4 separate regions of the Homo sapiens genome follow, and regions 2, 3 and 4 are each linked to region 1. Evidence: fine-mapped expression QTL. A gene starts in region 1. Each other region holds a variant in brackets. All regions are shown on one strand. Distances are from middle to middle. Region 1 holds the start of NSFL1C (NSFL1 cofactor). Region 2 has its middle 14 kb from the start of SIRPB2. Region 3 overlaps SIRPB2 (signal regulatory protein beta 2). Region 4 overlaps NSFL1C (NSFL1 cofactor).

Region 1 (8,106 bases):
GTGGGCTGACCTGGCTGGAAAACAGCATCAGGCAAAAAACAGCAGTAGCAGTGTTTATTTAAAGAGACAGTACACTCTGAAAGAACGAGCCAGCAGCAGCTGGTGCTGGGGGACCCTCTTTATGAGAATCTTACATGATTATTCGTGCAGGGGCATGAGGGAGCGTCACTTACAATCATGTTTTAGGTGGTCCCCCTGGCTGTGAATGTTGTGTGTTTGTACGCGCTAGTAAACACATTGCCTGTCTCATTAGCATTTAAAATCTCCACTCAGGGGTGTGTTTTGTTGTTATTATTATTATTTTTTGAGACAGAGTCTCGCTCTGTCACCTAGGCTGGAGTGCAGTGGTGTGATCTCAGTTCACTGCAATCTCTGCCTTCCGGGTTCCAGCGATTCTCCTGCCTCAGCTTCCTGAGTAGCTGGGACTACAGGCACGCACCACCATGCCTGGCTAATTTTTGTATTTTTTTAGTAGAGACGGGGTTTCACCATATTGGCCAGGCTGATCTCAAATTCCTGACTTCGTCATCCGCCCACCTCGGCCACTCAAAGTGCTGGGATTACAGGCATGAGCCACTGTGCCCGGCTTGTTATTATAATGAGCAAAAGGCTACTGTAGGGCGAGTTACTGGAGGAGTGCACATGCTCGTCAGTGGGAAAGTCCCTACCATGGTTATCTCTGGGTAAGGCCTCATAAGTCCCCTTTAGGGCCAGAGGAGCCCAACCACAAGGCCAGAAGTTGCCAGTGTAGCCATTGTCTCTTTGCTGGCCGCCAGTGGGTGGCGCTGACTGTCAGTGAATGGAGTCTCCAGGACTTCTTTTCCCAAACGCTCCCTTGCCTGCTTATTTCTGGCTATCTGCCTACTCTAACAGTCAGACTTGTAAATGTTTTACCAGTTGGATAAGGCAAAAGGGAATCTCATTGCAGTTTTCATTGGTTCTCACTGCTGACTAATGCAACCAAGCATTAGTCACCGGCTGGCAGTACTGTTATTTTATTATTATTGTCATTAGTTGAAGATGTTGTGAAAAGAGAGACAAATAGTCCCAACTTTGCTGAGGCAGTGGTAGTGTTGTTATTATTATTATTATTTTTTTTTGAGACAGAGTCTCGCTCTGTCACCTTTTGTGAAGAAGAGTGGTAGAAGAAGGCAGTGCTGAGGCTGAGGTAGTAGAGAAGGGTGAGTGGTACCGGCAGCTTCCATGTATAGGGGCCTCTGGAAGGTCTGAATGTCAGCTGAGAAATCAATCATTTGCTCCACCTAGCAGCTCCCCTGGCCCCCTAAGCTATAGAGGGTTTAGCGCTTAGGGGACTGGAGTAGGGGGTCAGAGGAGACACCAGTCCTGGGTACACACAGCTCCTGCCCAAAGTGAAGTCACCACCAGTGAGGACACGGCAGAGGGGGTGCCAAAGGAAGGCTGGGGTGGGGCGGGAGGTGGTGGAAGATAGGATTAAAGGGAGGGGCTGGGGTGAGACTGGAGTGGGAAGGAAGATGGAGATGAGCCCGGAGGGGGCTGGGGGTGAAATGGAGTGAAAGTGGGCTTTGGAGGGTGGGGTGCATTTAGTACTGAGGGTGGAGTTAGAAGGGAAAGTGGGGCGGGGTGGGTCAGGTGCTGGTGGCGGATCTGTGAGGTAGAGGTGAGGCTGGAGGTGGTCGTGGTGGTAGAATTTGGGGATGGGGCTTGGGTGGGATGGGGCTGGAGGTTGGGGGCTGGTGTGGTTGGACATAGGAGAGTGGAGCTAAAGCTGAGCCTGCAGCACCTCCTTCTCTAGTTTTGTTAAGGACACTTAGATAAGTGTTATGTAAATGTAGTTTCAAGTTCATGCCCTCACATCCCCTGCCTTAAACTCCAGTTGGGTCATCTGGAGCTGCTTCCAGAAACCAGCCATAGGAAGTGACCAGCACAGTCCTGCAGTCTAAGGAGAGACAGTGTGGTGTAGCGGTTAGAAGCAGACTCAGGAGCTGTGCCATACCTGGATTCAAAACTCTTTAGAAGTCTAGGTTTCCCCATCTGCAAAATGGAAATGATAACAATAGAACTCACTTCATAGGGTGCATGAGTTAGTGTATCTAAGGCTCTTTGCAGAGTGTCTAGGGGCATAGTAAGTGCTCAGTAAACACTAGCTGCCAGGTAGTGTTATGGGAAAGGATGCCCTCAAGTCCTCTAGAAGAGGGATCAGGGACCCTCTGGCCGAACAAAGAGCTTTCCCTGATGGCACAAAAATGAAGAGGGGGGGTGACAATGAGTTTCAATGACTCCAATACCAGCCAGGGAACTGGACCTTGAGGAGCTGATCGCCTGCAGATCTTTAAGCTGGGGTTAGTCGTTGTCAGTTTCCAGGGTAGAAAGACCTTACTGGTTGCCAATCGTGAGGTCCAGAGTGAGCCTCTAGCTTCTTGGACTTCCTGGAAAGTTGGGGTGCATTTCGAGTTGACACAATGATGAAAGGGGTAAGTCCTAGGGACCGGGGCTGGTCCTGGGTGGCCTTGCAATAGAAAGGAGAGTCTCACACCACAAAGAAAGGACCCTCCTCCCATGCCTCCTGCCAGGGCCTATTGTGGCTGCAACCATGCTCCTAATAACCTAACCCAAGCCCTAACTCGTTTGTCATATAAACTTAAAGGATTTCTTGCACAGTGTTAATAAGACACCGAATTTTCCAGGAAAGCAACTATTGTGTCAATTGAGGGAAGACTGGACTTTGTGCTGTTCATAACCTGATTAAGAGGGGTTTTGACTAAGCCTGGGCACCTTCTCAAGGTCTCCTTGAGAAAGGGACACCTGAACTGAGAGCTGAAGAATGAGCAGGGGCCGACAGAGGAAGAGGAAGGGAAGAGTGTCCCACGGTGGTGTTGGAAATTAAAGCTCGAAGTCTCAAGGAAAACCAGCACTGAAATAAAAGATTTTTCAGCAAAGCCAATTTACTTCTGCAGAAGGGTGCCACTCACACATCTGGTCTTCAGGAAAGCACACCGAACAAAAGAGAGAAGGGGTTTTTATCCCTAATGCGGTTAGTCGCTGCTTCTGTGTCCTGTTCCCATTGGCTGGGGCTGGACTGCGCAATCTAAGCTAATCCCGATTGGCTAGTTCAAATGGAGCAGAAATGTGGGCTACAGTGGTAGGGCAAGCGGTTTCGGCAGGAAGAAGAGTTTCCGCGGGAATGGCAATTGTAGCGAGGGTATCCAAGGGAACAGATGTGAGTTATAGATTAGGACCCGCGGGAAGGTTGTTTACCGTAACTAGGGGTAAGGAGGTACAAAGAACAAGGAAGTTAGGCTTTGAAAATAGAGAACAAAGAACAAGTAAGCTGAACAAGTAAGTTCCTCTTTGGAGAGGCAAGAGGGCAAAGAAGCTGAGGACCCAGAAGACAGGATTGTGCCTAAGAAAGTGGCCTTGGAGCAGAGGCCCAAAGAAAGCGGGGAGAGCGCCTTGCCCATCGGTAAGGGAAAGGTGCTCCAGGCACAGAAGCAGCTAATGCAACGGCCCTGAGGCAAATGCAAGATAACTGGCAAGTTCCAGGAACAGCAAGGAGGGCAAGGCGCCTGGAGCAGAGGAAGCTAGCGGATCCCTTGATGAGAGGGAGGAACTGGCCCATCTCTCATGGGTCCTGCAGGCAGGCCATGAGACTGTCTTTTATGCGGGGCGAGATAACGAGGCATGGACGTGTTGTGAGCGGAGGCCTAGCCTGTTCAAGGTCTGAATTTTTACCCCTAGAATGTAAGAAGCATGGGAGCAGGGACTTTGTTTTGCTCCCTGCCATATCCACAGCCCTAGAAAAACGTCGGGCCATTGATAGCTCTCAGTAAATGCTTGACAAGTAAGTGAATGAACGAATGCACAATTAATGAAATGAGGGCTGCGTCAATGAATAACTGGGAATCTGACTCCTGCAGGGAGCCTTCAGCCCACAGGTGTATGTAAGACCCGCCCCGCCTCTCATCCTTCGGGCTCCCACCCCCGCCGTTAGGCTGCGGTTCGCGCCGCGGTCGCCAGAGGGCGCGGAGCGGCGGGGCTTCCCGCACGGAGGGCTTTGCGTGAGGCACCGCGTGGGGCGGGGCTGCGGGCGGGCTCCCAGCTGCTGGGCCCTCATCGGCTGGGCCTCGTCGACCGGCAAGCGGAACGCGGCAGCGGGGCTGGGCCTGTGCGGCGGCCGCCGGAGCGCTTTGGAAGGCGCACGGGGCGAAGATGGCGGCGGAGCGACAGGAGGCGCTGAGGGAGTTCGTGGCGGTGACGGGCGCCGAGGAGGACCGGGCCCGCTTCTTTCTCGAGTCGGCCGGCTGGGACTTGCAGGTAGCGCCGCGCGGCGGGCTGTGTCGGGTGGGCCGGGGACTGCTGGGAGCGGGCGCCTGGTGCCTTAAGCCCGCGGCGGCCGAAGCGCACAGTCATCCCCGCTCTACCGCGGCCCGACCCAGGCCTCATGGTCCCGGGACCGCTTGTCACGCGTCGCCTGCTCGGCTTGGGAGTGGGGGAACGCGGGCCAGCCCCAGCCAGTTCTGCCGTGCCAGTTTCACCCTGCCTCGCCCGCTTGCGGCGTCAGCGAGACTTCGGGCGCTGCGGCAGCCGGCGAGGAGAGGGAGCGCCTGGGGGCGTGGCTGCCGCGCCGAGTATCTGCTGGAGGCCGGGCTGGTCCGAGTGAGCAGCTCTTGGGTGAAGCCCCACTCGGGACTAGGTGGCCGCTCATTTCCACTTCCGAAGTCCAGCCCGGGAGTTGACCGCCGCCCAGCCTTCCTAATTGCTGGGAGAATACCTCTGGGGTGGTGGCGCAAGGTTGGAGCTTCTTCACCTTGCGTAGTTAACTTATCTGTAAAATGGGAGTCTCGTGGAAATTGCTGTGTAGTTCATTGGCACGTACTGAGTATTCACTAAATACTTGCTAAGAAGACTTAAGCTTCACGAGGCAGGGATTTTTGTACACTGATGAATTCCCAGTGCCTGGAACAATGCCTGGCACATAATAAGCATTCGGTAATTAACTGTAGAAAGAATTGCATAAATATTCTTGGCCAGCTTCGTCTTAGGTAGATGATGACGGTGATGACTAATATTTATTGAGTACCTACCATGAGCCAAGCGCTGTTCTGACTGCTTTACATGTCTTTTGTCATTTAACCTTCGCATTTTGCAGCTGAGATTAAAGAGGTTAAGTAACTTGCTCAAGGCCTCACTAGCTACCAGGCAGAAGAGGTAGAAGTGGAACCCAGTTCTGTCTGATTGCAAGCAGACAGAGCCCAAGCTTTAAACCACCATGTGCCAAGCACTTTACATAATATGATTCGTTGGATCCTAGCAACACTATGAGGTAAAGACTAGACCCATTTTATGGATGAGGAATTGGAAGCACAGAGGGCAAAGAATTTGCTCAGGGTCACATAGCCAGTAAGTAGCGGGGTTGGAATTTGAACTGAGTCTGCTGCCAAACGTAAATTACTCCCCAAACATAAGAATTCGGTAAAGCATCACACCTAGATCACACCTAGACACAATGGGAAGCCCCTATGCTGGGCAGAAATAAAAAGTTTCTACCTGAAAGACCTAAAAGCACACAGTGTTGTGACCAACAGATCTTCTGTCTCGTTCCCCTCACATTGTAGTGGGGAAACTGAGGATCATGCATGTGACTTGCCTGGCAGGAACAGGACTTGAATGTAGGCTCCCTGAGAATGCCAGTTCACTACATGGCCTGAGACAGCACACTGCCTCCCAGCAGATTACTTTTATCCCTTGACAGCTCACTGTCTCCTGTGAAGTTGGTGACCCTGAGGACAGAGGCCATGTCTATTTCATCTCTGTGACCTCAATGCTTTCTTGTGTTTGTGCAAAGCAAGTGATTAGTGAATGCCTGTCCGTTGAGTTGGTGACAGAGATGTCACAAATGACCAAAGGATTCCCATATTCCTTCTGTATGTGTAAACCTAAGATGCGAGTATGCATAAATCTTAATGGATTATCTCATCCAGTGTGCAGGTTGGTGAGACAGGTACCCCCATTTCACAGATTAGGAAACAACTTGAAAGAAAGGAAAAGTAGCAACCTGGACTGACTCCACAGTTCCTGACTCCGGGCTGTACTGGAAGCGCTTAAGAGTGAGGGCCTAAGCACACTAGCAGGGATGGAACCTGGCTCCTCTCTTTACCAGTTGTGTAAACTTGAACAAATTTTTTTTTAATCCTCAGTGCTTCTGTATCAACTATAAAATGAGATGATAAGAGTACTAATAGCATAGAGTTCTTGAGGATTAAACAAATTAACGTATGTAGAATGCTCAGAACAACCTGGCATGTAAATGCTCACTAAATGTGTGCTACTTTTACTAGATCACGTTTCTTCATAAAATGAGAATAAAGAGTGTCTTCCACCCCAGCCATTCTTACTGCCTTCTTTTCACCTTAGTGGGTGGAATTTGTTTCAGTTGACACGAAGACTAACAGCTGAGCTGTTAACCTTCTGGTCTAATTTTCTTTGGCCCATGGATGCAAGCTACCTTGTAAGTGTTGGCCATGTCTGTATTCCTTTGTGCTCAAAGGAGATGTGCGTTAGGTGAAGGCCTGTTTAAGGGTCCCAAGGTACTACCTCTCTGTTTCAGATCGCGCTAGCGAGCTTTTATGAGGACGGAGGGGATGAAGACATTGTGACCATTTCGCAGGCAACCCCCAGTTCAGTGTCCAGAGGCACAGCCCCCAGGTAAGGGCCAGCTTCAATTATCGCTACATGAGTGTTTCCAGCAGTGAAGAGGAGCTATTTTCTGACCAGAGCGTTCAGGCCTGGGTGTGTGGACCAGGTCTGAATGAGAAGGTTAGACTGAGTCAATGGGTAGTACTTCCCAGCAGGCCTCAGTCATTTCCTATACAGAGATGCATGACTTTTAACTGGGTGTGGTTTATGGTTCAATCCTGGGGGAAACCACAAACCTACTTTTAAGACTTTTACTTATGTAGTATGAGGAATGACCACTGCAACTCTAAAGTTTTTAAGTAAAAGCCAAAAAACTTCCTTTCAAGGGTGCTATAGATGTGAAAGTTTAGGCGAAATGACTTAGGAAAGCTGTTTTGATATTTTAGGATGCCCGTTACCTTATTAAGAAGTCTTGTACAAAATAAACCTGTGTAACCCACCCTTTGCCAAGTTGATTAGGGAGACCTTGTCTTACTAGGTAAAACAGTGTTAACCTTTGCAATCCCATTTGCATCCCCTGTCGCTGCCTCCCACAGCACCCACAGCAGATTACTCCTGTGCTCTGCAGAGTGAGACAATGCTGGTCTTCCAGGAGACAGGCAGGGGTGCTTCCTGTAAAGGTGTCTGAACCTTTACAGAGAGTGTGTAAGCAGAGGTGTCTCCCCTCTCTGCTTTCGCCTTATTGCTTCTACTCTCTAGTGTATGTTTTAGCCAGGAAATTTTATTTGGGTTTGAATTCAACCCCAGAATATAACCAACAGTGTTTCTTTGCCATGAAGTGGTAAATTATGTTTCTCTCTAAAGGCAACTGAGGTTTAAAATATATTTCCTCCCTTCGAAGAAGGAGCACTAACCCCAGATCTCATTGCTTTCTTCTTTCCCTAACTCCCATCCAGAGAAAAGAGGTAGGAGGAAAGTGATCTTGTAACTGTTTGCACGTGCTAACCTATGAGATGTTGGTGATGGCACATCTGGGTATTACTGCTTGGGACATGTTGTTAGGGTAAGTGCTGTTCTTGCAGCTGCTAGTAGAGATGGCTGATTTTCTGGGGTATGAGTCTTTGACAGCCACCTTAGGGTGTTGTTGGGATGTTGGCATGTCAGAATTATAGAGGGGGAGAGATTTAAACTTAGTCTCTAATGCCAGTTACATGTTTACTCCTTTCTTTTCTCCAGTAATCCCAAAGTTCTATTAAGGCAGTGGTTTATTAGCATGGGCCCAGGAGCCTGACTGCGTTGGTTCAAATCCCAGCTCTGCCACTTAAGTAAAAGCTTTGTGACCTTGGGCAGGTTACTTAACGTTTCAGTTCCTCATTTTCCTCGCCTGTCAAATGGTAATGATAGTGCCTACCACATGGGAGACTGAATGAGTTAATACTTACAAAGCAAATAGAACACAGCATGTGTTGTTATTATAATTTTAGTATTATC
Region 2 (8,106 bases), 38 kb before region 1:
CCACAACCTGTAGTTTCTGTGATGCTTTAATAAAGGTGATATTGGACTCATCCATATACAAGTGTTTTTTGTTTGTTTATTTGTGTGTTTGTCTGTTTTACCATATTCATTCTCTGTGCACAGAGACAGTGAGCTACTTGAATTTTTTCCCCAGAAGCCTCCAGACAACTCCCCTTCACATCTCAACATGTGTCCCAGCCTCAGGGGACTGGCTGCCATAACTGCCTTGGACCAATGATGATTCATCTCCTGGGGCTGGGGAAGGGCCTAGGTTTCCCTGAAACTGTTGCTGGGTGGAATGGCTATTCTGTTAGCAAGGCAGGAGGGACATTTGGCTGTGCAGAGGCCCAAACAAGGGTATCTTCCAAAATGGATGGTGAATTCAGTGAGCTATGGAAAACTGCACCCTCCTAGGATGCAAAGCCCTAGACATTTCCAGGCCTGTGAGGTGCTGAATTCATGCCAGAGAAGATTTTGGCTTCAAGAACCAGAACTTTGGGAGCTTCATCAAATATCCCCAAGGAAGAGCTTGTCATAGAGAGACTGCAGCAGGTAGTAGAACCGGCCAACTTCAAATGGGACTTTGTCCAGTTAGGCCTGGACAAAGAGCAATGGCCATAGTGACCCATAAAGACTGAGAACCAGAATTCATCTCCTTTGTCTTGGAAGGCAACAGCCCCGGTGCCCTGATCCAATCCAAGAGTGGAGTGGGGAGCTATGGAAAATAGCTGCTATTCACTTTCTCTCCAACCATGGTAGAGGCACATGCTCAAACTGGATTTCATAGGATTAAGAAAAAAAAATCTTAACATTACATGCTTATTACAAAGGAAAAAAGAATACAGTGGAAATGCCTGGAAGACATCACAAAGTAATCAAAGTGAACATGACTAGTAATGGGACCGATTGTGTGCCTTCTGATTGGAAGCAATGAGAACACAGCATCACTTCCAGATATTCCTGCCAAAGGTGCCAAAACCTGACTCTCATCATGAGGAAGTGTTAGAAAAATACAAAATTAGGGGCATTCTACACAATAACTGGCCTATACTTTTAAAAAGTGTCAGGGTCATAAAGTAAAGGAAAGGAGATTTTTTTTCTATATTAAGGAAAACTAGAGAGGTATGGCAACTAAATGTAACTGGATCCTTTCTCTATAAAAACATGTTATTGAAACAATTGGCAAAACTTGTAGGGAATCTAAAGATAAGATGGTAATAATGTGCCTATGTTAATTTCCTGATTTTGATGGTCTGGTGGTCATGCAGGAAAATGTTCTTATTTGTAGGAAATACGCACTGAGATATTCAGGGGTGTCTTAGTCCGTTTGGGCTGCTATAACAAAATGCCATTAGCTGGGTAATTTATAAACAACAAAAGCTCATTTCTCACATTTCTGGAGGCTAGGAAGTCCAGGGTCAAGGCACCAGCAGGTTCACCATCTGGTGAGGGTTTGCCCTCACTTCCAAGATGTCACCTTGCTCCCTGTCCTCACATGGCAGAGGGGATAAACGCTGTGTACTCACATGACAAAAGATGGCTGAGGAGCTCTCTTGAGCCTCTTTTCTAAGGGTACTAATCCCATTCATGAGGGTGGATTCCTCATGACTTAATCACTCCCCAAAGGCCCTACCTCTTACTACCATCACATTGGCTATTAGGTGCTAACATGTGGATTTGGGGAGATACCAACATCCAAGCCATAACCAGGGACGATAAGGCAATATGCCAGCAATTTATTCACAGATGTTTCTGAAAAGAGGCTCTTTATCCCACACTTGTAACTTTTCTACCAGATGAAGATTGTTTCCAAAAAAACTGTAATTAAGTAATATTCAGGTATTATGGAGCAATTCATATCTGCTGCAAAACAGATAGGTAGCTGACATACACTGAAAGCGTGCTGTGTGCCAGACTGTTCTGAGTACTTTCCGTGTTATAAACTGCGTTACTCTCATAACAACCAGATGAGGTATAACCTATACTTACCTTAATTTTGCAAATGAGAAAAAATGAGACACAAAATTTTATTGACTTGTCCAAGGTTGCACAGCTCCTAAGTGCCTGGCTGGAGTTTGAACCCAGGCAGTCTGGTTCAAACTCCCTTGTTCCTAACTACCACATACTCTCTTCTGATACTTTTGTCCAGTCCAATGGCCTTATATATCATTGAAATATAGCTCAAGGACTCAAATTTATTTCTCCAGCTGGGACTTCCCCCATGAATTTCATGTCCATCTGTCTACTCAACAGCTCCATTTGTCTGCCCAATAATATCTCAAAGCTTACATCCCAAAATCTGGCCTTCTGCTTATCCCCCAAAACTCTGCTCCACCCACAGACTCCCCCATTTCGGCTGATAAGAACTCCATCTCTCCAGCTGATGAGCCAAAAACCTAGGAGGTATGCTTGATTCCTCTCCTCTCTTATCCCGCTCCCTTTATGTCAGGAAATTACATTAGCTTTAAAATATATTCAGAATCTGACTATTTCTCACTATCCCCATTGCCAGATTTCACCCTTCATCCTCTCGTTCCTGGATTGCTGCCATTAGCCCCTCACTGGTCTCCCTATAGCCAGCATAGGAATCCTTTCAAACAAAGGCCAGATCATGTCCCACCTCTTCCCAAAACTTGCTACAGCTGCTCATCTCACTGCAAGTAAAGCCAAAGTTCTTACCTTGGCCCTCACAGCCCCTCACCACCTGCTTACCCCAACCCCCTTTCCCTGGTCTATATTTCTTTCCACAGGCCTTATCACTTTCTAAGATACTATATCATTTACTTATTTACTTTATTTATTATTGTGTATTGCCTGCCTCCCCAATTGGGATGTGTACTTCAGTTAATAAGGACAGTGAGTTTTGTCTGCCTTATTCACTGATGTATCCTAAGCACCAAGAATAGTTCTGGTACATAGCGCATGCTAATATTTGTTGAATGAATCAGTGACTACACCCTACAATCTCTCATATTGGGGTGAGAGCAGAAATGAAGAGAAGGATGAATAGACAGCAGGAGACAGAGGGGGAGAAAGAAGAGAGAGCCCCTAGGTCTAGGGCTGCAGAGAACATTCCTTAGTCCTGCCAGCTCTAATAGCTTGTCCCATGATCTGTGGCTAGAAGTTATCACAATATTTATGAAAATCACTCTTTGGGAAGGTAGCAATGAATACTGGATAGTAAGAAGGAGTTTGTGTGCTTGTTCTGGCCTCAAACCCAGGGCTGATCAATGTCTACCATTTCCCTGGCTCCTGAAAGATGCATTCTCTGATGTGGAGCATTGTCATGTGTCATTACCAGGTTCCAGGGAGGGAAAGTGAAGAAAGAGCTGCCCTTTGCTTCACCTCTTCTGAGTAACAGGGTTGAAATTCTCTATCTTCTCTCTGGCTCCAAGCACTCTCCTGCCCTGCCCCTCCCTTCTTAGGATAAATCCAGTTAACAGAGCCTGAGGCCCCAGGCACCATGACTGGCCACATCCAGTCCACCCACATCGGTGGCCCCTGGCCAACTTTACTGCCAACCCTACTTGTGGGATGCTCCTGTGTATAGGATAAAGCACACAGAACAAGGTGCTGGGAGGCTGAACCCAAAGGCTACTAACATGGCAGACCAAGA[C/T]GAGCGAGAAAGGAAAAGCCCATACAAAATAACAACAACCTTCCCCAATTTCTTTCCAAGTCAAGTTTACCCAAACTTGTTGAACAGTCTCCCTTTGTGTTCCTGTCCCTGTACCCAGTTTATTGAACAAGCTGGACTCAGTAGGGTTGAAGCAGAAAGCTGCTTCATTCTTCTTCACCACTGCCCTTTCAAATCTGCCAAATTATTCCTCCTAAGAGGCAGTAATGGTACCTATTATTCAGGTAATAAAAATTGCAATCTCTCATTCAATATGAGTGATGGTGGGCTTCTTGGCTATTTTCCACCTTGCTCTTCCATTCTTCTTTTCTCTCACTGCCACCTCTGGAGCAGAGGAAAGGGGAAACTAAGGACTAAGGCTGGGGTGATTTATGACTTGCCCATATTCTTGCCACCTCATCAGGCCAAGGGCAGGATTTAAACCCAGATCCCCCTGACCAGAAGCAGAGGTCTTTCTGCTCCACTGCAGCTATAACACATTTATCTCTCTTTCCCTCTCTATAACACACACTCGCCATAACACACGTATCTCTCTCCCTCTCTCTCTCTCTCTCTCTCTCTCTCACACACACACACACACACACACGGTGTGGGGAAGGCGTTTAGGTCCTTCCTAGCTAGACATTCTGCTGCCGAAATAATGATGCCTGAATATTTGGTGAGAACAAAAGCGCTGCATACATAGGCATGTCAAAAGGAAGCCTAAAAATATTTAACAGACACAAAAAATAGTCGGAATCCAGGTGTTCAGGCTGCTTTAGGGAGGTGTTGCTTCCCGGGATGTTGGGAGACTACCAGATAAATGCTCACGAAACAGCACAGCTCAGATCAATTACATCACGTAGAAAATCGGACAGAAGAGGACTTGCTTCCTTACTGATAAAAGACCTAAGACTAAGGCTGACCTTGACCAGGGTATACAACCAGGGTGATTGAAAGAAATCCCACTCCAAGTGGAGCCGGGCTACATAGGACCTGGGGTGGAAGATAGATCCAAGGAGCAAGACGGAGGGATCTAGCTCCAATTTCTAAGTCCTGGACAAGGGAAACCTGTGTCACTGTGTTGTACACTGGAAACTGCTCAGCTACGTTGAGTAGTGAAGTAAAAAATGAAGTATTAATTTAATGAAAGTACCCAGCATGGCCCTGAGAAAGTGCACTATTTTATTGGGAAAAAAAAAAAACTTTGTTAAATATTATAAGGTGCTCAGTAGCATTAATAATCATGCAAACTGGGAAGAAACCCCAACTCCTGACTTCTCTTTGGGAGGGGAAAGGAGTGGAACATTGATCCAATATTTTGACTTTTTGGGGTGCTGCCAAAGGACTAGTTTCCATCTTGCCTGAATTTAAATGCTGACGGGAATGAGGACCAGGTTTGAGGCCACTGAAAACGAAGATGATCAACATGACTTGGTCTAGCACCAAAATATGCAGTATCACAGATAAATAATAGGTGGAGCTATTAGTTTGTTCTAGCATCAGTCTGCAGTATCACAGACAGAAACTAGGTGGAACTTCAGTACCGTGGCTTACTGCAGCACCAGCCAGACCGCAGCATCATAGGCAGACACTAGAGGGAGCGCTTCAATAGAAAGACCTCTTCCGTTACGTGATTACACACTAAGTCCCAAAAGGGTGCATTCCCAGAGAAGGGTTGACAGGTCTCCAGATTCTCTAGCCAGGCTGATTGGAGAAAGTCCTCCCTGTAGAAAACCAGACCACAAAGACTGCACGGGGTAGCTGAGTTTTCAAATGCCAAAGTACCAAGAGAAGATAAGAAGACATATAAAGGGACAGGAAAACATGGCCTATTCAAAGAAACACATTACATCTCTAGAAACTGACCCCAAAAAAATACACGAATTATCTGACCAAAAAAATGCAAAATAATAATCATAAGAATTTTCAATGAATTAAAAGAGAGTACAGACAGACAACTAAATGAAATCAGGAAAACAATGGATGAACAAAAAGAAAATATCAAAAAAGAGATAGAAGCTATGAAGAAGAACCACACAGAAATTCTGGAACTGCAGAATACAATAACTAAATTTAAAAATCCACTAGAGGGGCTTAGGAACAGATGTTACCAAGAGAAGAAAGAATCAGCAAATTCAAAGACAGGAGTTTTGAAATTACTGAAGCAAAGGAGAAAAAAAGAACTAAGAAAAGTAAAAGGAGCATAAGAAACTTATGGGACACTATGTGTAACATTATGGAACAACCTACACACTATGAGAATCTAAGACAGACAAGAAAAAGAGAAGGCACCACAGAGACTTTTAAAAAAAATGATGGCTGGAAATTTTTCTAATCTGAGGGAAAAAGTAGACATACAAATTCAAAAAGCTCAACAAGCTCCAACCAGGACGAATCTAACAGCATTTACACTAAGACACAATTAAACTGTCAAAAATAGAAAAGAGGCTGAAGTGGGAGGATCACTTGAGCCCAGGAATTTGTGGCTACAGCAAGATGTGATCACGCCACTGCACTCCAGCCTGGGTGACAGAGGGAAACTTTGTTTTAAAAAAAAAATGACAAAGAGTGAATCTTGAAAGCAGCAAGAGAAAAGCAACTTGTCACATACAAAGGAGCTCCTATTAAATCATCAGCTAAAGTCTCAACAGAACCCTTGTAGGCTAGAAGGAGTGGGATGTGATGAGAGAAAAAATAACTGCCAACAAAGAATACTATATAGTACTAAACTGCCTTCAAAATGAAGGGGAAATGAAGACTTTCCTGGATAAACAAAACTGAGGGAATTCATCACCATTAGACCTGCCCTGAAAGAAGTGCTGAAAGGAATCCTTCAAGTTGAAATGAAAAGATGATGAATGGCAACACAAAGCCATACAAAAGTATAAATCTACCAGGTAAACATAAACATAGAGACAAATATAAAATCTGGAAGTATTGTAACATAGCTGTATAAATCACTTTTGAATTTGGTATAGAATTTTAAAAGCGAAAGCATGGGAAGTAACTAAAAATCTATGTTGATGAATACACAATATAAAAAGAGGTAATTTGTTTTGTTACAGTAACATAAAGAGGGCAGAGAAGTAAAGAAGTAGAGTTTTTATATGCAATTTAAGTTAAGTTGTTATCGGTTTAAAATATCTTGCTATAACTTTAAGTCTCTTTGTGTAGTTGCAATGGTGATGACAAATAAAATATGAATAGAATACCAATGCTCTTCAACTTATGATGGGATAACATAAGAATAAACCCATCAGAAGTCAAAAATATTGTAAGTCAAAATTGCATTTGATGCTGGCAACACAGCATACTGTCCCTGACTTATGTTCAACTTACAAATTTTCAACTCTACAATTATGCAAAATAATACACATTTAGTAGAAACCATAACCCCATTGTAAATCATAGGAACTTTTTATCTTATGCTGGGCTTACATTCAGGTACTGTCTGTATACACAAACAGAATTGAAAAGAGAATCAAAATATGTCAGTACAAAACATACAAGAAGGCAGCAAAGGAGAAAAGGAGCAAAAACCACTGGACAAGACATATTAAAATATATTGAATGTATTATCCATATATATAGACAAGTAACAAAACGAAAATAGTAAGTCCTTCCATGTCAGTAATTACTTTAAAGGCAAATAAATACCTCAGTTAAAAGAGATAAATGAGAAAACATAAAAACAACAGAGCAAGATGATGGAATAGAAGCCTCCAGCAATCATCTCCCCCAGGAAGGACACTAATTTAACAACTGTGTACACACAAATAAAAGAGCCTTCATAAGAACTAAAAATCAAATGAGCAGTTACAATACCTGGTTTTACTTCATATCACTGAAAGAGGCACCGAAGAGGTAGAAAAAAAGTCTTGAATAGCCAACACCACCCCTCTCCTAACCCCTGGCAGTGGCAGCATGGTGTGGAGAGCATTTCTGTGCACTGGGGAAAGGGAGATCACAGCAGTTGTGAAGCATTGAACTCAGTGCTGCCCTATTATAAAAGAAAACAAAATGGGACCAAACTCAGCTGTTACCCACCCAAAGAGGGAGCATTTAAACAGCCTTAGCCAGAGGGGAATTGCTAATCCAATCTCAGTGGTCTGAACTTCAGTTCCTGCAAGCCTTACCACTGTGGGCTAAAGTACTCTGGGGCTCTAAATAAACTTGAAAGGCAGTCTAGGCTCCAAGAGCTACAACTCCTAGGCAAGTTCTAGTGCTGAACTGGGCCCAGAGACAGTGGACTGAGGGAACATGCAACCTACTGAGACACAAGCCAGGGCAGCTAAGAAGGTGCTGGCATCACCCTTCCCCTAACCCCAGGCTGCACAGCTCACGAAAGAGGCCTCTTCCCTCCACTTGAGGAGAGGAGAGGGAAGAATGAGGAGGACTTTGTCTTGCATCTTGGATGTTGGGAATAATGCTCAAAATCCTAAGGAAATTGAACACTCAAACAAGGATTCTTAGCAAAGCAATTTTACTTC
Region 3 (8,106 bases), 20 kb before region 1:
TAGGACCCACCTTGGGACTTTCTTAGGAGAATTTAACAAGATAATACCCATAAGTGCCTGGCATAACAAAGATTTGATAACTCTTGGCGATTATTATTATCATTCCCATGTTTCCTCTAACTCAGGGGCAGGCCAGGTTAGCTCCAGAGTCTTGAGACCCCTGAATATATAGCTCAGCCTCTGAGTCCAGAACTCTCTGATCTACCAGGCAGGGATACTTGGCTCTCAGTGGGCTCATTCCATCTCCTGCCCATCTGGGCCTCTGCTCCAGGCTCTACTGAGATCTAGATTCTGTCCATGACATCTTTGGTCCTCCGGGGTGGCCATCCCCAGGAGAGATCCTGGCAGAACCCAGGTGTGGGGTCGGACCTAGGTGCTCCCTTACTCATTGGCCGTATGACTCAAGACACCACTTCAATTCTCTAAGCTGATTTCCTCAATTCTAAGATGTGAATCATAATTGCTAGGTCTCATTCCACAGGTACTTTTGAGTGTCTGCTATGTTTTAGGCACTAGACTAGGAAATCAGAAATCTAAACTACTCAGAATAAAAAATATTCCCAATGATTGTTGCAATAGAATAGATGGAAAATAAGAGAAGTTGCTTAAACCAGTCAGTTGGAATGTTTGAGTCCAGCTGCATCTCAAGCTGAGTCAGGGCTGGTTCTTGGGTGTGCCCTCTATATAGTGGCACAGAGCCTCCTGCTTAGAAGGGCCCCATGCTTGGTTTAATGTTCTGCTGTGTTGCTCAATAGTTTTTGAACAAGGGACCTGCATTCCCGTTTTGCACTTGGCCTCACAAATTACGTAGCTGGCCCAGGATTGAGCCTCACCACTTCTCTATTTAATACTCACAGCAGCCCCGAGAAAAATATGAGTGCCCCTATTTTGCAGTAGAGGAGACTGGGGCTAACACATTTTCTATAAGGCTTTTAAAGGGAGCCCCATACAGGAACCATGAAAGGCAGAGGATGCAGATGGAAAATAGATGAGAAGGTCCAGCTCCACTGACAAGGCAGAGGCAAACCTCCTAGGACACCTCCTAAAGCCCAAGTGACAACACAGAAGGGGACTCAGAAGGGGAGAGGGAGGGAAGGGGTGTGGGCACCAGGACTGAGTCCAGGCTCCAGCTTCTTCCCTGGTGTTCACTTCCCCAGACTCACCCCTAGCTGAGATAAGACTTTCTGAGTGCTTCCTTCTTCCTCTCCTCCATTGCTTCTTTCTCCTCACACACGCAGGCTTCATCTTTACAAATAATTTATTTTTAACAGCTCTATTGAAGTGTAAGTGACATATATTAAACCGTACATATGTAAAGTACACAATTTGATAAGTTTTTTTTGTGAGTGCTGGGTGTATTTCACACTTGTGAAATCATCACCAAAATCAGCATCATGAACATATCCAGCGCCCAAAAGTTTCCTTGTGATTCGTCCTTGCCACTCCTCCTTGTCTCCAAAACAACCACGGATCTGTATTCTGTCACTATAGTTTGCATTTTCTAGAATTGTATATAATAAGGATCACACAGTTATACTCCTTTTTGGCTGGCTTCTTTTACTCCGCATAATTATTTTGAGATTCATTCATGTTGTTGCATATGTCAATAGTTCATTTCTTCTCATGTCTATCCATTGTATGGATAAACCCTTTCCCATTCACCTGTAGACAGACATTTGGGTTGTTTGCAGTTTAGGGCTATTATAAATAAAGCATCTATGAATATTCATGTACAAGTCTTTGTGTGGATATATACTTTCATTTCTCTTAGGGAAATATCTGAGAATAAAATGGATCATATGGTTGCCATACGTTTAACTTTTTCAGACACTGCCAAAGTGTTTTTCAAAGGAGTTGTACCATTTTACATTCTCATCAGCAATGTAGGAGGATGGCAGTTCCTACACCTCCTCACCAACACTTATTATGGTCAATCTTTTTAATTTTAGTCATTCTAATGGGTACATAGTAATATCTTACTGTGATTTTTTTTTTTTGAGACAGGGTCTCACTCTGTTGCCCAGGCTGGAGTGCAATGGCTTGATCTCAGCTCACTGCAACCTCCATCTCCCTGGCTCAAGCGATCCTCCCACCTTAGCCTACCAAATAACTGTGACTACAAGCGCACATCACTACACCCAGCTAATTTTTGTGGTTGTCTGGTTGGTTGGTTAGTTTTTTTGTTTTGGTAGAGACAAAATTTCACCATATTGCCCAGGCTGGTCTTGAACTCCTGGGATCCAGTGATCCGCCTGCCTCAGCCTCCCGAAGTCCTAGGATTACCAACCTCTCACTGTGATTTTAACTCCCTAATATGTAATGATGCTGAACATTTTTTACATCATGCATCCTTTTTGGTGAAGTGTCTATTCGACTCTCATTTTTTAAGTGTGTTTCTTATTATTGAGTTTTGAGAGTTCGTTATATATTATGGATACAAATATTTTGCCAGATATATGCTTTGCAAAGATTTTTCTCCTACTCTGTGACTTGTCTTTTTATTCTTTTACAAGTGTTTTCCGAACAGCAGGAGTTCTTAATTTTTATGAAGTCCAATTCATCAATTTGTCTTTAATGGATCATGATTTTGGTGTTACATCTAAGAAATCTTTGCCTAACCCAAAGTTACAAAGTTTTTTTCCATGTTTGCAGCTAGAAGTTGTATCGTTTAACATTTTATGTTTAGTTATATGATCTATTTTGAGTTAATTTTTATATAGTTTGAGATATAAACCAAAGTTCATTTGTTTGCACATGTATTTCCAATGGTTCTTGCACCATTGTTGAAAAAACTCCCCATTCTCCATTGAATTGTCTTTGCACCTTTGTCAAATATCAAATAATTATAGTTAGGAGCCATGGCATGCACCTGTACTCCTAGCTACTCAGGAGGATTGCTTGAGACTAGCAGTTTGAGGCTGCAGTGTGCTATGACGATCACACCCAAAATAGCACTGCACTCCAGCCTGGAAAACATAGCGAGACCTCATCTCTTTTTAAAAAATCAGTTGCCTCTATTTGCATGGACTATTTCTAGACTCTCTATTCAGTTCCACTGATATGTTTATCTATCTTTGTGCAATACCACATTGTCTTGATTACTGTAACATTATCTAAGTCTTGAAAGCAGGTGGTATTAGTTTTCTAACTTTATTCTTTTTCAAATGGTTTTGGCTATTCTATAAATTTTAGATTTAGTTTATCAATGCTAAAGTGAAGCCTGCTAGGATTTGAATGGGAATGGCATTGAGTTTATATATCAACTTGAGAAGAATTGACATCTAAGCAATATTGAATCTTCCAACATATGAACAGTGTGTACCTCTCTATTTATTTAGGCTTGATTTTTTTTATCTTAGCAATGGCTTATAC[A/G]TTTTCAGTTTGCAGTTCCTTTACATTTTTGGCTAAATATTTTCTATTTTTATAACATTGATGACTGGAAATTTTAAAATTCCAATTTCAAGTGGTTTATTGCTAGTGTATAGTAATACATATAATTTTGTACATTGATCTTTTATCGTCCACCTTGCTAAGCTCATTTATTAGGTCTAGTAGCCTTTTTAAGAAATTTTCATTTAAATTTTAATTATGTCATATGCACATAAAGACAGTTTTCTTTTTTCTTTCAAATCTGGATGTCTTTTATTTCCTACTACCTTTTTCACAGTTAGTACCTATCCTACAAAATTGAATAGAAATAGTAAAAACAGGCATCTTTGTCTAGTTCCTGATCTGCAGGGAAAACATTGATTTTTGCACCACTAAGCTTGATAGAGTTGTTGTAGGGTTTTCACAGGTGCCCCTTATCAACTTGAAAAACCTTCCTTGTCTTCCCAGTTTGCTGAGAGTTATTATTAGGAATGCATGTTCAAGTTTGAAAACTGCTTTTTCTGCATTCTGTTGAGATGATTATATGAGTGCATGTATATGCGTGTGTGTGTGTGTTAGTTTAGTAATATGGTAAATTACATTGATTGATTTTTGAATGTTAAACCAACTTTATATTCCAGGGATAAGCTCAATTTGATTATAATGTATTATACTTTCTAAATATTGCTGATTGCTGAATTCGGTTTACTAAAATTTTGTGTAAAATTTTTTATCTATGTTCATGAGAGATATTGATTTTCCTTTCTCGAAAGGAAAAGGCTTCGGTTTCAAGATAACACTGGGACTCATAGAATAATTAGAAAAGTATGCTCCTTTTTTCAATTTTCTAAAAGTATTTGTATAAAATTGGTATTATCTCTTTCTTAAAGATATGGAAAATTTGGCTGGGCATGGTGACTCATGCCTGCAATCCCAGCAGTTTTGGAGGCTGAGGCAGGCGAATCACTTGAGGCCAGGAGTTCAAGACCAGCCTGGCTAACATGGCGAAACCCTGCCTCTACCAAAAATATAAAAATTAGCCGGGCATGGTGGTGCATGCCTGTAATCTCAGCTACTCAGGAGGCTGAGGCAGGAGAATCGCTTGAACCTGGGAGGCAGAGGTTGGAGTGAGCTGAGATCACGCCACCATATTCCAGCCTGGGTGACAGAGTGAGGCCCTGTCTCAAAAAAAAAAAAAAGAAAAGAAAAGAAAAGAAAAAGATATGGAAAATTCACAAATGAAACTTTCTTGGATTGGACCTTTATTTCTGGGAAGATTTTTAATAACAGATTGAACTTTTTAATAGATAATAGGGCTAACCAGGTTGTCTTTTTCTTCTTGAGAAAGCTTTGGCAGTGTATCTTTTTCAAGGAATTTGTTCATGTTACCTAATTTGTCAAATATGTATGACTTGAAGTTTTCCATAATATTCTTTTATTATTCTATTAATAAGAGTAAAATCTGTAGTAGTATCACCAATCTTATTCCTTATTTTAATAATTTAGGTTCTTTCTGTGTGTGTCCCCTCTGTTCAATCTGACTAGAGATTTATCAGTTTTAGTGATCTTCTCAAAGATTTTCTTCTTCTCATTGATTTTTTCTGTGTGTGTGTGTGTGTGTGGTGTGTGTGTGTGTGTGTGTGTTCTACTGTATTAAGTTTCATTTCCAGCTTGATGATTTCCTTTCTTTCACTACTTTGAGTTTAGTTTATTGGCCTTTTTTTCTAGTTTCTTAAGGTGGAAAGTGGGTAATTTATTTGAGTCCTTTCTTCTTTCCAAATATAGGCATTTAATACTACAAACTTCCCCTTGCTTTAACAGAATCCCGCAAATTTTTATATTATGTTTTCATTTTCCTTCAGTTCAAAATATTTTCCAATTTTTCTTTTTTAATCGATACATAACATTTGTACATATTTATGGGGTTCATGTAATACTTTGTTCCATGCATAGGATGTGTAATAAATGAGTCAAAGTATTTAGGATATCCATCACCTCATGTATTTTTCATTTATCTGTGTTAGGAACATTTTAAGTCCTCTCTTCAAGCTATTTTGAAATCTACAATACATTGTTGTTAACTACAGTTACCATACTCTGATATCAAATGGCAGGATCTTATTCCTTCTATCTAACTGTATGTTTGTACCCATTAACAAATCTCTCTCATGCCCCTCTCCCTACACTCACTTTTCCCCACGTCTGGTATCATTCTACCCTCTGCTTTCATGAGATCAATTTTTTTAGCTTCCACGTATGAGTGAAAACATGTGATGTTTGTCTTTCTGTGCCTGGCTTATTTCACTTAACATAATGAACTCCATCTTCATTCATGTTGCTACGAATGACAGAATTTCATTTGTTTTTATAGCCAAATAGTATTCCATACTGGCCATCCAGTAGTGGTATTGCTGGGTGATATGGCATTTCTATTTTTAGTTTGTTGAGAAGTCTCCATACTGTTTTTCATAGTGGCTGTACTAATTTACATTCCCACCAACCATGTATAAAGTTTCCTTTTCTTTGCAACCTTACCAGCATATATTTGTGGTGGTTTGTTTATTTATTTTGTTTTTTTTTTTTATTGTTGCCTTTTTAACAGTCGTTCCAACTGGGGTAAGATGATATCTCATTGTGGTTTTGATTTGCATTTCCCCGATGATTAGTAATGTTGAGCATTTTTTCATGTGCCTGTTGGCCATTTGTATGTCTTCTTTTGAGAGATGTTGATTCATGTCCTTTGCCCACTTTTTAATGAGATTTTTTTTAACTGTTGAGTTGTTTGAGTTTCCTGTATATTTTGGATATTAGATTAGTCCCCTGTCAGGTGAGTACTTTGCAAATATTTTCTCTCATTCAAGAGTTTGTCTCTTCACTGTGTTGATAGTTGCTTTTGTTATGAAGAAGCTTTTTAGTTTAATATAGTCCCATTTGTCTATTTTTGTCTTAGTTGCCTGACCCTTTTGAGGTCTTAGTCATAAAATCTTTACCTATACCAGTGTCCTGGAGTCCCTTCCCTGTTTTCTCCTAGTAGTTTTTATAGTTTTAGGTCCTACAGTTAGATCTTTAATTCATCTTTAGTTGATTTTGGTATATGGTGAGAAATAGCAGTCTACCTTTATTCTTCTGCATATGGATATCCAGTTTTTCCAGCACCATTTATTGAATGTGTATTCTTGATACCTTTGCCAAAAATCAATTGGCTGTAAATACATGGATTTATTTCTGTGTTTTCTATTCTGTGCCATTGGTCTATTATACCATTGGTCTATGTATTCTATGCCCTTGGTCTATTATACCAATACACATCCCAATCAAGAAGAAATTTACAAAATCCCAGAAAAAGAACACAAAATATCGATACTAAGGAAGATCAGTAAGATACAAGATAATTCTGAAAAACAATACAAAGAAATCAGAAAACACTCCAAGACATTGCTCTAGGCAAAGGTTTTGTGGCTAAGACTTCGAAAGACAGGCAACAAAGGCAAAAAAAAGACAAATGGGACTATATTAAACTAAAAAGCTTCTGCACTGCAGAAAAATAATCAAAAGAGTGAAGAGACAACCTCCTGAATGAGAGATAATATTCACAAAGTACCCATTTGACAAGGGACTAATATCTGGAATATACAAGGAACTCAAACAATTCAACAGTTAAAAAAGCAAACAAACAAATAAATAATCTAATTAAAAATGAGCAAAGGAAAGGAATGAATAAACATTTCCCAAAGAAGACATACAAATGGCCTAGAGGTATATGAAAAAATATGCTCAACATCACTCATCAGGGAAATGCAAATCAAAACCATAATGAGATATCGTCTTATCCCAGTTAGAATGGCTATTGTTAAAAAGACCCAAAAAAAGGCCAGGTGCTGTGGCTCGTGCCTGTAATCCCAGCACTATGGGAGGCTGAGGTGGGCAGATCACCTGAGGTCAGGGGTTCGAGACCAGCCTGACCAACATGGTGAAATTCTGTCCCTACTAAAAATACAAACATTAGCCAAGTGTAGTGTCATGTGCCTGTAATCCCAGCTACTCAGGAGCCTGAGGCAGGAGAATCACTTGACCCCAGGAGGCGGAGGTTGCAGTGAGCTGAGATGGTGCCACTGCACTCGAGCCTGGGTGACAGAGCAAGACTCCCTCTCAAAAAAAAAAAAAAAATGATGAGGATGAGGAGAAAAGGGAACTCTTATACACTATTGGTGGGAATGTAAATTAGTACAGCCACTATGGAAAACAGTATGGAGATTTCTCAAAAATCTAAAAATAGAACTGCCATATGATCCAGCAATCCTAGAACAGGTATTTATCTACAGGAAAAGAAATCAATATATCAAAGGAGTGCATGCATTTCTACGTTTATTGCAGCAATATTCACAATTGCAAATGTATGGAATCAATCTAAGCGTCAATCAATGGATGAATTGATAAAAAAAATACATATATATAGTGTCCCCAAGCACACCCACAATGGAATACTATTCAACCGTGAAAAAAAAATAATGAAATCATGTAGTCATTCACAGCAACACGGATGGAACTGGAGATTATTATGTTAAGTGAAGTAAGCTGTACTCAGGAGGCTGAGGTGGGAGAACTGCTTGAACCTGGGAGGCGGAGGTTGCAGTGAGCCGAGATAGTGCCATTGCACTCCAAAAAGAAGGAAAGAAGGAAGGGAGGGAGGGAGGGAGGGAAGGAGAAAGAGAGAGAGGAAGGAAGGAAGGAAGGAAG
Region 4 (8,106 bases), 26 kb after region 1:
GTTTAAGTGCTCTAGGGAAGGAGGCATTGTTTCCAGGTGGTTTCATTGTCATATGATCTCCAGGTTCAGAAGGCAGGTAGTGTCTGGAGAAACGATTCCTGGCCCTGAGAAGTTGACCATTAATTTCTGACAGATAGTTTAAGTGCCTCCTGTGATATACAAAAGAGACACACACTGTCCTTGTGAAATTCATGAGCTGCAGGAGGAGACACTAATCAGATCATCCCAGAAACGTGGAAGGAGGGCCAGGGATGGAGCCAAGGAGCTAAGGAGGGCTTTCCTGAGGAGGTGGCATTGGATCCGAGGCCTGAGTTGTGATTAGGATTACAGAAAGGGGATCAGGCAGGGGAGCCTCTGGAAAGAAGGACCCAAATGTGGGAAGAGAGTATGGCCTGATGAACTAGAAGCGGGCAGAAGAGAACGAGGGGAAAGAGGGTGGTATAAAATTAGGTCCTTGGGAACACAGTAGGGTTGTTGGTGTTTATCTCAAGGAAAATGGAAACAACAGTGAAGGACTCTTGGCAAGGAAGGGACTTGGTCCCACATGCCTGAGCGTAGCTTTCGCTGTTCTGTGGAGAAAGTCAGGAAAGGGGATTTGCGAGGTGTTTAGCTTTCCACAGGGCAGGGGTATGGACAGCAGAGGATGGCACTGCTCACCGCTTCCCCAACTCCTGCAGGATCAGCGACATCCGACTCTTCATCGTGGATGCCCGGCCAGCCATGGCTGCCACCAGCTTTATCCTCATGACTACTTTCCCGAACAAAGAGCTGGCTGATGAGAGCCAGACCCTGAAGGAAGCCAACCTGCTCAATGCTGTCATCGTGCAGCGGTTAACATAACCGCCCAGCCAGCTGCCTGGCCTCCCTCCTGTGTTTCCCATGGCCAGTGGCCATGCCCCATGGGGATCGCCCCTCCTGCCCCCTTGTGCACACCCAGCAGTCCAGTGCAACGTCTCCTCCATAGCTCTGGGTTCTTAGATCTTGGTTGGACGTTTGTTTTCTCCTTAGTTGCATTTCCTGGGTTTTTGTGATGATCAATGGACTTTAATGAAAAAAAAAATAAAAACAACCAAAAAAATTGAAGGAATATCACCAGCATGTTGTACGGAAACTCTCCCACTGAAGCAGGCTTTAATTGCTTTAAAATTATATTTATCTTGGGGCCTGTGGGAGGAAACTTCCTTCCATCTTCTCTGCATAAAAACTTGTGGCACACAATGCTTATTCACTAGTGTGTCCCACCCGCCAGCCCCACAGATGACTGGAGGAAGGAGGGGAAATGTGTAGAAAGAGGCTTCGCCACCACTTGTTCCCACGAGAATATGTCACTTGCCCAGATAAAACTGGGCGGCAGCCAGAGTTCCCTGAAGTGGGAAGTCAGAGCTCCATGCACACAGTGTCTTCAGAAGGTGAAAATAAATATTTCCCTGTGCTCCTTTTACTCAACCCCTGGGGTATCTAATCTTGCCAGGTCTTGGCCAGTTGAGATTCTGTTCCACCTGCCTGCCTGGCCCTTTCCTCCATTACCATCCAGACTGCTCGCCTCCTGGGGATTCTCAGGGGCTCCATTATGGCTTGATTTACTCCACGTGCAGAAGTCTTGAGTGGACCTAGGAGGTAGGTGGGATATTTTTTTTCACTAGGATACAGCTCATGCCAACCCATCCTAAGTGAGTTCAGAATCAGGGTATCTTGCCCTATAAGATAAACAGTCAAAATGCCACCGAGCTGTTCACTAGTGATGTGTGGCAAATCAAATCAACTGTTGAAGAAGGGGTGAGTTTTCTGTGCTACAAGCACCTGTCACTGTTGGTACTTGCAGGAGGCTTCTGCTGGGTATGTTTTGGAAGTGAGTGTCACTACTTGGCTTTGCTTAGCAGGTTCTGCTTCACACTTGTTCTTTGACCTGCTGACTTGTGACTTGCAGAAACATAGGCAGTAGTCCTAGCCTGGTAAAGACCCTCCACCACCCCTATAAGTTTGATTGCTATGCAGGTTTGGGAGAGGAGGCCTATTGGGCTCTTGGATGGAACCCTTTCCCGTATTAAACAAACCAGAGACAGAATCAGTGCTGACTCAGGATCTCCTGGTTTGGAATCGTAATGTGCCTCAATCCTCTTTCCAAGCAGGCCTCACCAGTCTCTTTCTCTTTCCTGCTTCACCCCTGCAATGAGCCAAGAACCAACACTACATCCACCTAGAACTGCAGAAGGGCTTGTGGTTTCAACCAAGACCCATCCTGAGCAAGGGACTTGGCTTGGTGCTTTTGATCCCAAAGTTCCCACACCGGCAGTGGCCTGCTGGGGCAATGGCATCTGTCACGGTGTTTTCTCCAGCAGGTGGAGATTATGGAACCTACATATGGGTCTGGAAAAACTGTACACTGTTGTCACCTTGACCATTAAAAACCAGAATGAGGACAATGGAGTTTTGTACTTTCTAATGGGTTGCTTTGACGGAAACTACAGCAGCCAGCAGAAGTACTTAAGTGCTTCACAAAGGTCCCACTTTACAGTGCAAAACCTTGAGCCCCAGTCACACTGCTAGTAAGTGGTAAGGTACTGCCTCTTCCCATCCAGAGCCCACGTTCAGCCACCATGGAGTGCAGTATACACTCCATCCCTAACTGCCAGGCCCATATACATACACTTGACCTCCCCCTACCTCCTTCTCACAGTGTCTGCTTAATTAATTAGTATATTGCAGAAGAGATTGTAAAAACACCCACTTAAAACCTGTATCATCTACGGTAGTTTGCACAGGGCCCCCAGCACCTCTGGGAAGTAAGCGAGGCAGGTGATCTAACTCTTACCTATATTGTTGATGCAGCCACCACAGTTGAGAGACAGTCCCTCTGACCTTGGACCAGGGATCACACTGGTCTGGTTCCAGGCTGGGGAAGGATGTTCCCAGCCCTAGTTTTCTGTTTTGGGCAGTCCAGATGGAAAGGCCCATCCACCCAGATAGGTTTTCACAGGTTTAGAAGAAAAAGGATACTCAGCCACTGGTTCCGGGGCTTCTGAATTCAGTTCTCAACTGGGGCATTTTGGATCTCCCCAAAAACTGGTTGGTAAGAGAACCTCCTGGCATTAAATGGGCCAGGACAAGGATGCATGTCAGTTCATTGGATATGCCTTGATAGATACCCAAAACTCATCAAAATGAAAAATAGGCAAAGTAATTGTCATGATGCCCTTTCTAAAAGTGCAGTTTTAACTAGTCTTTGCTGTGGGATGTGGGTTGTTTGATCTTGTTAACA[A/G]TCATGCCCAGCAACCCTGTAGGTAGAGTCTTGCACAGATCCGGCTGCTTCCTCAGTAGAAGGCCAGGGAAGAAGCAGGCATGTGGTCAAGAGCTAGGCATGGCTTTAATGGCGTTCCAAAGTGTCTTCCAGAGGGGCAGCGGCCCTTTTCATACCCATCCATAGGACAAAGCATGCCCTTCCCTGCCAGGAGCTTAAAGATGACTTAGAGCTCATTCAGGGGAAGCAGCTGGTACAGAAATAAGGGTTCCCTGCTGCTCCCTGTCTCCTAACTCCCAGCATTTCAGAGAGAACTGCCAACTCCTGATTCCCAGGCCCAAATAAAAGGCCTTCCTTCTTTAAATGGGCGTTGGGCTCCTGTGTTGAGGGTGTGTGGCTGGGGATCCCAGTCCCCCTCTTCCAGGCCACACTCTTCCCAGGCCAGGACAGGGAAGCAGAGTAGAAAACACTTTTTGACTTGTAGCATCTGACCCAGGTCCCAGTCTGAGCTCCTGCACTGTGACTGTGCCTCTCTGTTTCGGTGGCCTCATCTCATGCCATGTCCAGTCCATCAGCAATCCTCTGGGTGCCCCTGGTCACCCCTCCCCTACGATCATCTGGGCCAGCCTCCGTAGTCACTCACCTATGACTGCAGAATCTCATCAGTCCCCCAGCTTCTGCCCTTGCCCCACCCAGGCAAAGGGCTTCTTTGGCACCATTAACCACAGCCTGCCACTCCCATCCTTTAACGTCCTTGGGAGCTTTCCATTACCCCTGGAAACTTCTAAGACCTGCAGAGCCCCATAGGCCCTGGCCCCTTCCCACCACCCTCCATCCCTTTGACCTGCTTCATTTTTCTTCTCTCTGCTCCATCTAATATGTACTCTATTTATTAACGTGCTTGTTTCCTTGGTCCCCCCACTAGCTTATAAACTCCATGAGGGCAGAAATGCCTGTTCCTCACTCTTGTATCCGGAGCAGGTGGCATGGTGTCTGACGCATAGTAGATCCTCAACAAGTGCGTGCTTGGATGAACCTGTGAAATGGAGACCAGACCTTATCTAAAAGGATGGAAGGCAAGAAGGCTTTTAAAGCACCCCCATGTGGTGCCTGCTTGGGAACTGCAGTCCCTCCTCCCAAAGCAGGTTCTCAGCCATGAGGGGGCGTCCTAAAGGGCACCTAGAGCCACAGGGTGTTCCTGCAACAGGTGCTAAGAAGATGTGTCTGGGGTAGGAAGCGGGTGTGACAGGAATGTCCCCAGTCCCTTCTTGCCCTGTCTCAGCTGGACCAAGAGGTTTATTAAGGGCCAGTTACCCTCCGTGTTGAGCAACTGAGAACCTCAATGCCAGGACTAGGACTTGCTACTACTAATCGTAATAGCAGCTGCCATCATTTGAGCACTCACTTTGTGCCAGGCCGTTTGTGCCTTAACAACCCAAGGGTACCATGGTTAGCCCACTATGGAAGAAGTTACTGAGGCTTAGAGCGGTGATGGGACTTGCCTGAAGCCACACACGGAGTAAGAGGCATTTGAATCCCCAACTACCTGAACGCAGAGCCACAGCCCTTGACCCCGAGGCTCTACTGCTGTGAAAAAGGCAGGCACAAAGGCAGTGGCAGGAGGGACGATTGGGTCGGGCAGGGAGGGACAGGGAAAACGGAAGCGGACACCCTTGAACTGGGTTGTGAAGGGTGATTAAAGGTTGGTTCTCTGACGAAAAGGCAAAAAAGTTGTCCTTCCTCAAGAGACAAACTCAGAGGGCATGTGGAGGCTTGGGGCAGGCTTTGAACTTAGGTTCCATCTTATACCAGGCATGACCTTAGACAAGTCACCTAAGCTTCTCTGAGCCTTGGCTTCCTCATTCAGAAAACAGGGATAATGGTAGTTCCTACCTCTTAGACTATGGGGATTAAAGATGTCTGTGAAGCCCTTGACGCATAGGAGGAACTTTATGAATGACAATAGGTGCTGCTGTGTAGCCCTTACCATGTGCCGGGCGCTGTCAAACACTTGAGCATGATCTCATTAATTCTCAACACTCCTGTGAAACAGGTGCTTTTATTATTCACATCTTTACAGAGAATGAAATTGAGTGCCTTGCACGTGGTAGACAACCTGGCCATTAAACGTCTATTGGTTAAATGATCGGAGAATCAGAGAGGAGAAAGCAGTCAAGGACACACTACTAATAAATGACAACTGAGTTTGAACCAAGGGCCATCTAACTCCATCCTCCTGGCCTGGCCTCTGTACCATGAGCTTATTTTAAGTCAGCTCTGGGTGAACCACCTGCAGCAGGAAAAGCTCAGGCTTAGGAGTCAGCCTGCTGGGTACTAGCTGTGTGGCCTCGGCAGGTTCCTTAGTTTGATCATCCATGTGACAATATACTAAGATGGAATTATTTCCATCCCAATTTGGCTGGGTTCCCAAGGCAATAGGGGGCCTAGCTACTCCACCTCCCAGGATGAATTGCTGTCCACACACAGGGCTTTCAAAGACATGGTCAAAAACTAGCTGTGTGTCTCCTTGCCTCTTTCCCACACCAAAGACGTTAAAGGTTCAAGTTGGAGCTCTGAGAAGAGTTTTCTTTAAAGGAAGTTACTGGAGGGCTTTGAGTGCACAGGGGAAGGGGGAGCTTTCCTTCTCCCTCAGCCTAGGGATTGGTGTCTCAAGGAGACCACTCAAGAGCTTGGAGATGACGAAGGTGCCAGGCACCCACCTCACACCTGAGCAATCTTGAAAGCAAGAGGCTGATGAAGCAAAGAGAACTTGGTGTGAAGGAGCTTGTGCTATAAGTCCCATCAGCCAAATGTGGACCCATGAGGCAGCCAGACTGGACTGTCCTGGGTCTTGCTCTGGAAGGACAGAGGGACCTTAGTGCAAGATAGACCTTGGGTTGCAGGACTGAGGGAGGAGTTACAAGCAGCCAGCTAGAGAATCTATTGGCTTCCTCAAGGGAAGTGAACCAAGATCTGAAGAACCAACAAGTGCACCCTAGAGGGAAGCCCAGAGCATCTGCACCGGCCACAGGAAACCAGCAGGCCCTTCCCCATGTCCCCTGCGACCCTGCCCCTGAGAGAGGGAAGAAGCTGTACTTCTAAATGAAGTTCAAAATCTTGACTATGACCTGGGAATGGCCTTTTTAAAAAAAATTACTTTTAAATAGGTAATATATTTACATGGTGCCAAAAAATGTCTTAGATACCTCCCTTCTTATCCATGCCATTTGCCCAATTTCCCCTCCCTCCCTCCCTCCCCACTATAAGTTTCTTAGTTGTCCTTGCAGAGTTCCTAAATACAAGCCGATACTCTCTGTCTATTCTGAGGCATCCATTGTTTCCCATATTTTAGCAACTCTGAAATCAGAATGCATCATACAAGAAGGCAGTCCTGGTGTCACCTAATACCTTAACATATTTATTTTGTCTATATGTTTCCTTTTTATTTGTGCCCAAAGTTGATATGATATAAATTCATGTCTAAATAAGTCTAAATGAGTTCTCAAATATAAAATTCTAAGCATTGTGCCAATTTAATCAGCAATGGTCTTTCTTAGTGGCATATAAATTAATGGTGGCTTTGTCACTCCTGGCATCTTAGATCCAATAGATCTGCAGCGATTCTTATTCACAAGTGTGTCAGCCTGCCCACCACTATCTACATCTTTTTCCATTTAACAGTAGATTTTGGAGGTCATTTGTTGTGAAGGACATGTGGGTGTCTCCTGGGTTTTGCTGTTACAAACAGTACTACAGTGGCAAAGCTTGTATATGCAAATGTGTAAAGAGTAAATTCCCAGATGTGTAAGTGCTATTTACTCTTGCACCCGCAGTGGACTTGAGAGCCTGTTTTCCCACAGATTCGCCAGCAGGGTGCGCTGTGAGCATTTGCCTGTCAGGTAAGTGAGCAGTGGATTCACAGTGTGGTTTTGTTTGCATTAATACCAGTTGTTGTTGTTGTTGTTTTGTTGTTGTTGTTGTTGTTGTTTGAGACAGAGTCTCACTCTGTTGCACAGGCTGGAGGGCAGTGGTGCGATCTTGGCTCACTGCAACCTCTGCCTCCTGGACTCAAGAGATTCTTCTGCCTCAGCCTCCCAAGTAGCTAAGATTACAAGCACGCACCACCACGCCCAGCTAATTTTTGTATTTTTAATAGAGAGGGGGTTTCACCATGTTGGCCAGCCTGGTCTCAAAGTCCTGACCTCAGGTAGTCCACCCGCCTCAGCCCCCCAAAGTGCTGAAATTACAGGCATGAGCAACCGCGCCCAGCCCATGAATACTATTTATTGAGTATTTTTCTGTACCACATTATTAACTACATATTTCTCATGAATCATCCCATTTAATCCTCAGGCAAGCCCTATAAGACAGGTACCATTTTTAATTCTATTTTAGATATGAGGGTGAGAGAGGTTAAGCAACATGCCTATTCCACCTAGCCAGCATGTGCAAGTCCACAATTTTATGATAAATTTACCTTAGTTTTTTCTTTTTTTTTTTTTTTTTTTTTTGAGACGGAGTCTTATTCTGTCACCCAGGCTGGAGTGCAGTGTCATGATCTCAGCTCACTGCAACCTCCATCTCCCAGGTTCAGGCAGTTCTCCAGCCTCAGCCTCCTGAGTAGTTGGGATTACAGGCATGTGCCACCACACCCAGCTGATTTTTGTATTTTTTAGTAGAGATGGGGTTTTGCCATGTTGCCCAAGCTAGTCTCAAACTCCCGACCTCAGGTGATCCGCCCACCTCGGCCTCCCAGAGTGCCGGGATTACAGGTGTGAGCCACCGTGCCTGGCGATAAATTTGACCTTAGTATGTTTATTTCGGAGCTTGTACTCTTAATCACTCTGCATATTGCCTCCCTTAACATT

The links.
Region 2: its variant is fine-mapped to the expression of NSFL1C in whole blood (INTERVAL, PIP 0.97).
Region 3: its variant is fine-mapped to the expression of NSFL1C in whole blood (TOPMed, PIP above 0.99).
Region 4: its variant is fine-mapped to the expression of NSFL1C in whole blood (TOPMed, PIP above 0.99).

What each region holds. Positions count from the first base shown.
Region 1 is chr20:1,462,907-1,471,012 of GRCh38, reverse strand. It overlaps NSFL1C (NSFL1 cofactor), which reads left to right and starts at 4,164. Exons shown (of 9, transcript NM_016143.5): 1 at 4,164-4,293; 2 at 6,587-6,684. The coding sequence starts at 4,189. It also overlaps a transcript of SIRPB2 not described here. RefSeq lists a silencer at 3,870-4,139 and an enhancer at 4,434-4,935.
Region 2 is chr20:1,500,891-1,508,996 of GRCh38, reverse strand. No RefSeq gene overlaps it. Among named protein-coding and RNA genes, the nearest start is that of SIRPB2, 14 kb to the right of the region's middle. RefSeq lists an enhancer at 7,866-8,106. The variant C/T (reference allele first, on the strand shown) is at 3,617.
Region 3 is chr20:1,482,539-1,490,644 of GRCh38, reverse strand. All of the region lies in intron 1 of SIRPB2 (signal regulatory protein beta 2), which reads left to right. Among named protein-coding and RNA genes, the nearest start is that of SIRPB2, 4.8 kb to the left of the region's middle. The variant A/G (reference allele first, on the strand shown) is at 3,373.
Region 4 is chr20:1,436,483-1,444,588 of GRCh38, reverse strand. It overlaps NSFL1C (NSFL1 cofactor), which reads left to right. Exons shown (of 9, transcript NM_016143.5): 9 at 678-2,423. The coding sequence ends at 840. Among named protein-coding and RNA genes, the nearest start is that of NSFL1C, 26 kb to the left of the region's middle. The variant A/G (reference allele first, on the strand shown) is at 3,260.